2 linked regions of the Homo sapiens genome follow. The protein of the gene in region 2 interacts with the protein of the main gene of each other region in a pairwise test. Each region holds a gene or a part of one and is shown on either strand. Other genes may lie near its edges.

The links.
Region 1: the proteins of AHCTF1 (region 2) and NUP160 interact in a two-hybrid assay, tested with the Homo sapiens proteins (one study listed by BioGRID).

The regions. Positions count from the first base shown.
Region 1 is NC_000011.10:47,779,786-47,782,481, reverse strand, and holds part of NUP160 (nuclear pore complex protein Nup160), read left to right. Parts: intron 1-2,034; coding exon 2,035-2,139; intron 2,140-2,696. UniProt on the Homo sapiens protein: Functions as a component of the nuclear pore complex (NPC). Involved in poly(A)+ RNA transport.
Region 2 is NC_000001.11:246,858,888-246,862,717, forward strand, and holds part of AHCTF1 (protein ELYS), read right to left. Parts: intron 3,267-3,830; coding exon 3,072-3,266; intron 2,409-3,071; coding exon 2,012-2,408; intron 1-2,011. UniProt on the Homo sapiens protein: Required for the assembly of a functional nuclear pore complex (NPC) on the surface of chromosomes as nuclei form at the end of mitosis. May initiate NPC assembly by binding to chromatin and recruiting the Nup107-160 subcomplex of the NPC.

The sequences.
Region 1 (2,696 bases), on a different chromosome or scaffold from region 2:
CTAAGCCGTGATGTTCATTAGGTTAGATGTATTATATGTATTTTCAACCTATGATATTTTCAACTGATAGTGGGTTTATTGGAAAACAAACCCACCATAAGTTGAGGAACATCGGTATAGGCGCATATATATATATATATATATATATATATATATATATATATATATATATATATATTTTTTTTTTTTTTTAACTGAGTTTTGCTCTGTTGCCCAAGCTGGAGTGCAGTGATGCAGCCTCCACTTACTCCCTCACTGCAGCCTCCGCCTCCCGGGTTCAAGTGATTCTCCTGCCTCAGCCTCCTGAGTAGCTGGGATTACAGGCACCTGCCACCACATCCAGCTAATTTTTTAATATTTTTGGTAGAGATGGGGCTTCACCATGTTGGCCAGGCTGGTCTCGGAACTCCTAACCTCAAGTGATCCACCCACCTCGGCCTCCCAAAGTGCTGGGATTACCCATGTGAGCCACCATGCCCGGCCTAGGCATTTCTTTTTATTATCATGCTATGTAAGGTGAGAATCTGAGAGTAAATTGAACTATATGTTAGTGTATTTAACCTTTACTATCTGTAGTTATACAACTAAATATTGACACTCTAGGAATCTCTAGTCTCCTGTTTATAAAATAGGAATTTCATCTTTCTCTATCAAAATAATATGGCATTAGTTAGGATTCAGTGGAGAGAGATAAACAAAATGGTATTGTGTGTGTGCCGGGACTGTGTTAAGTCTCTACAAGCATTTTTTTATTTAATCCTTATAGCAGCCTTATGAAGGAATGTTTTAATTTTCTATTTTTTAACCCATGAGGGAACAGGCTCAGAGGTTATCACAGGCTCATACAGATGGCAAATATAATAGAAGAGCCAGGTCTAAATAGGTGTAGTTAACTACAGCTTCAACCCTCATGAAATCAGCCAGGTGCAATAGCTCACACCTGTAATCCTAGCACTTTCGGAGGTCAAGGTGTGAGGATCGTTTAAACCCAGAGGTTAAGACCAGCCTTGGCAACATAGTGAGAACCTTTATCTACAAAAAATAGAAAAAAATTAGCTGGTCATGGTGGTGCGTGCCTATAGTCCCAGCTATGTGGGAAGCTGAGGTGGGAGGATCACATGAGCCCTGGAGGTTGAGGGTACAGTGAGCTATGATCATGCCACTACACTCCAGCCTGAGTGACAGAGTGAGACCCTGTCTGAAAAAAAAAAGAAAGTTGACATGAAATTATTTTTTATTTTTATTTTTTTATTTTTTCCAAGACGGAGTCTCGCTCTGTCGCCCAGGCTTGAGTGCAGTGGCATGATCTCGGCTCACTGTAACCTCCGCCTCCCGGGTTCAAGCAATTCTTCAGCCTCAGCCTCCCGAGCAGCTGGGACTACATCTGTGCCACCACACCTGGCTAATTTTTGTATTTTTAGTAGAGACGGGGTTTCACCATATTGGCCAGGCTGGTCTCGAACTCCTGACCTTGTGATCCGCCCACCTCGGCCTCCCAAAACGTTGGAATTACAGGCCCAGCCGACATGAATTTTTAAATATATTTAACCGAAAAAAATGACAAGTTTCCCAGTTGGAGAAAAGAGGGTTCCCATTGTGTGCATGCACATGTATACACACAGTTTCTTGTGGTTGGGGGAAAAAATGCATTTTATTTTGCCGGGCACAGTGGCTCACTTTCGGAGGCCAAGGCAGGTGGATCACTTGAGGCCAGGAGTTTGAGACCAGCCTGTCCAACATGGTGAAACCCCATCTCTACTAAAAATAAACATAAAAAAATTAGCTAGGCATGGTGGTGCACATCTGTAGTCCAGCTACTCAAGAGGCTGAGGCACAAGAATTGCTTGAGCCCAGGAGGCGGAGGTTGCAGTGAGCTGAGATTGTGCCACTGCACTCAGCCTGGGCGACAGAACAAGACCATCTCAAAAAAAAAAAAAAAAAGGGTATTTTATTCTACAGAGTCCTATGAAAGCAACTACCCAGAAGAAATGGTACACTTTGCAGACTGTTTTCAAATAAACATTTTCCTTTTAGTTTCCACTGTCCGCAACAGCCCCAATGGTGTGGCTTCCATACTCCTCTATTGATCAGCTTCTCCAAGCTCTGGGAGAGAACAGTGCCAACAGTCACAACATCGCAGTAAGTCAGCCCTTTCATGAGACGTCTTGTGTAAGCCCCTGCACTAGCAGTTACACCTTACAGCTTGATCTTCAGTTCTCCGGGATTAGAAAGGGAAGACAAAAGCCTATTTTTGGCCCTTAACAAACTGCCCAGTCCCTTTATAGATAAGGCAGAGGATCTAAGTAACAGGATCAAGAAAACATAATGAGGAACTGTGTAAGTGTTAATTATACAGAGACAAATGGCAAGCAGTCGGTCCATCCTTTAAAGCTTTTAATTTGGTAGGGCAGACCCTACAAGGTAAACAGGTACTTGAAATACAGCAATGATAGGCCGGGCGCAGTGGCTCACGCCTATAATCCCAGCACTTTGGAAGGCTGAGACGGGCAGATTACCTGAGAGGTCAGGAGTTCGAGATCAGCTTTGCCAACATGGTGAAATTCCATCTCTACTAAATATACCAAAACTAGCCAGGCATGGTGGCGGGCACCTGTAATCCCAGCTACTCGGGAGGCTGAGGCAGGAGAATCGCTTGAACCCAGGAGGCGGAGGTTCCAGTGAGCCAAGATTGCACC
Region 2 (3,830 bases):
TTTAACAGCTACCATTTAAACATGTTAGTAGAACAAGGCACATCAAAAGAGCAATGTAGGCCAGGACCGGTGGCGCATGCCTGTAATCCAGCTACTTGGGAGGCTGAGGCAAGAGAAGAGGTTGCAGGAGCTGAAATAGCCCCACTGTACTCCATCCTGGGCGACAGAGCAAGACTCTGTCTCAAATAAGTAAGGCAGTGTAAATTTCTAGACATATGCTATTTATGGGCATGGTCCTAAAGTTCTTAGAGTAATTAATAATGCCCATGCTTACTAAGTAAAGATATCGTAGTCCAAACTTCAGTGGACTCTCATCTTAAACTACTTAAGATGCAGATTTTTATGTAAGTATGTAGTTTTACAGCTTTAGAGTTAGGAGTTACCTTTAAATAACCTTGTTAAAAACGTGTGTAGGGTAAGAAACATACAAATAGGTTCAGTTTTCTGACCCACCAATTCTAGGTGAAGTCTCTCCCATTTACTAGTGTTCCCCTGGCCCTCTTGTTAACCAAACTGGATTCTAAGTGTTTGTCAGTATAGTCCACCATGCTCTGTGTGACATGGGAGCAGGTGCCATTTCTACTTGACTCACTGTTTGATCTTCAACACCTAGAATAAACACAGTAGGAGCTAACAGGAATACATACTTCAGGAACTCAAAACATTTTTTGATCACTAAAATAATATTTTTTTTCTTTTTGAGACAGGGTCTCATTCTCTTGCCTGGGCTGGAGTTCAGTGGCGCAATCACGGCTCACTGCATCCCCAACCTCGACCTCCTGGGTCCAAGCGATCCTCCCCTCTCAGTGTCCTGAGTAGCTAGGAATACAAGTGCATGCTATCGTGCCCAGCTAATTTTTTTATATTTTTTGTAGAGATGGGGTCTCCCTATGTTGTCTAGGCTGGTCTCGAACTCCTGGGCTCCCGAAGTGCTGGTATTACAGGCGTGAGCCACTTTACCCAGCCTGAACATTTATTTTCATTGTCCAGTGATTATTTTGGAGGTGAGGACAGAGAGTAGAATGAAATTCTTAATTTCTGAGAATTATAGAAACTTAAAACTGGTGGATAAGTTAAAAATTGCAATAATTTGGCAGGGCGCGGTGGCTCACGCCTGTAATCCCAGCACTCTGGGAGTCCGAGGCAGGCAGATCACGAGGTCAGGAGTTCGAGACCAGCCTGGCCAATATGGTGAAACCCCGTCTCTACTAAAAATACAAAAATTAGCCAGTCATGGTGGGGGGCGACTATAGTCCCAGCTACTCTGGAGGCTGAGGCAGAAGAACTGCTTGAACCTGGTTGGGGGGGGGGCGGAGGTTGCAGTGAGCCGAGATCACGCCACTGCACTCCAGCCTGGGCAACAGAGTGAGACTCTGTCTCAAAAATTAAATAAATAAAAATTGCAATAATTTGTTCTGTAAAGTTATTTCTCATAGCTACTGGAAGGACTTTCAAGTCAGACTATGGCATCTTACATTTCTTTCCTTAAATGTTACTATTCTTTTCTAAATTTCACGGCCAAATAAAAAATGTAACACATAAGTTCTCCTCTGAAATCTCGTACCTACTCATGAAACAATGTAAGCCACACTTTCTAAGCTGAAGGAGTAAGGTCTGTGCATTATGTCTAGGAACTAGTATACTGTGAGCATATAATATTTAACTCTCATGCTTTCCTTCTGAGATAGGGTCTTGCTCTGTCACGCAGGCTAAAGTACAGTGGTGCAATCATGACTCACTGAGGTTTCAAACTTCTGAACACTCCCACCATGCCTGGCTAATTTTTAAATTTCTATTTTGTAAAGACAGGGCCTCGCTATGTTGACCAGGCTGGTCTTGAACTCCTGGGCTCAAGCAATCCTCCAGCCTCAGCCTCCCAAAGTGCTGAGATTAACTAGCATGAGCCACAGTACCTGGCTAGGATGCTTTTCTTATGGTGGAAAAAATTCTATTATAAACTTTATTGAGGGACATTAATAACAATTTTGAGTATTCAGAAATGAGTTCTTACCCATTTGTTTCTGTAGGTCTGAAGGAGTTACTTCTGATGCAAATACATCTTTATCTCCATCCTTTTCAGTTTGTTCAGTTACATTAGTAGTTAGTGCAGTGGAAGAGCTTTTGGGCTTAGAGGCCGTGAAAACAGTCTCTTCAAGGTCTTCCGGTGACGGTGCATCCTGATACTCTAAGGTAGTCTCATCGGATGTGATTGAAACACTGCTGTTTCCTTTGCTCACATCCAGTTTCTCTAAACTTTGTGACCCCTCATCCATTTCTTGATGCTCCTTTTCAGGGCTGTTCAGGAAAAAAGATGTGGTCCTATCTTTGCTCTTCAGCCATTCAGTTTCCACTGGAACTGCACATTTTTTAGGTGTAGTAAATACTTCTAATTTGCTATCATCTGCAGCCTGTAAAGTAAGATTTTGAAAAGAAAAAAATTAGTAAATATCACAGTTAAGTCTAGTCCTAAGCTACCCATCCCAATCATACCCATACTTTCTTTGTTGTTTTTACCCAAATTCTCTCCTTAATAAAAATTCATTTATTCTAAATCCATTCTCTTCTAGTACGTAAAAGTTAATGGTGGCTAATGTTTCCCTAATTGGTAATATACCAGTATTTTCAGAAGACTACAACACAGAACAGGCTAGATGACCAATAATCACTGAAAGGTTCCTATTAACCTACAGTGGACCTCAAGACACACCCTCAAAAACATATAACTAGTTAGAAACAACACAATATAAGGTAAAAACAAAGATAAAAGAAGGACTAAAAATTAGGAGGTTTGAATCCTACTCCCAATTCTACCACCATACATCTAGCTGACTACAGCCAACTTACTTGGTGCTTCCGAGTCCTATTTATCTGTAAGATGATGGGTTTGGCTTAGCCAATGGCCCTAGTGTTTCTTTCAGAACTAACCTTTTCTTATTTCATTACTAGCTACAAGATTATATACAAAAATCTATAGTGGTATTTAAAAACTTGATTTATCTAACTTTTTACTTGTCAGAGCTAATACATTCTTATTAAAAAATGTCTTTTCTCCCAATTATTATCAAACTTACCCCAGGAATCCATTTTGGGTGGACATCTTCTTCCACAAATGAAATTCTAGTTTCTTTAAGTCGTTGAGGAGACCTTCCAGGTGATGGAGAGGGAGATGCTAAAGGTGTTGATCGAAGAGTAGACCTCAGGATGGACTGAGGAGTGAACTCAGAAAATCCAGAAGTAGTAACTGACATGGCCAAACTTTTAGCTTTCTATAGTAAAGAGCAAATGGAATTACACCATTAAAAGTGCTTATAGGCCGGGCGCGGTGGCTCACGCCTGTAATCCCTGCACTTTGGGAGGCAGAGGCAGGCGGATCACCAGGTCAGGAGATCGAGACCATCCTGGCTAACACGGTGAAACCCCGTCTCTACTAAAAATACAAAAAATTAGGCAGGCGGGGTGGCGGGCGCCTGTAGTCCCAGCTACTTGGGAGGCTGAGGCAGGAGAATGGCATGAACCCGGGAGGTGGAGCTTGCAGTGAGCCGAGATTGCGCCACTGCACTCCAGCCTGGGCGACAGAGCAAGACTCCGTCTCAAAAAAAAAAAAAAGTGCTTATATAAAAACAGATGGGGTCAACTGAGTCACAATAGTGGTTATATTCTCATCTCATCTCCAATAAACATATCAATAGAAATATTTATTCCAGATTTCTGCAAAGAAAATACAAAATTCTTCCAGAGCTTTTTATACGTAAGTCTACGAAACATAAAACTGCATCCATCTTTCTAAAAGCATTATTTCCAACTTAAATTCAACTAAAAAAGTGCCAATT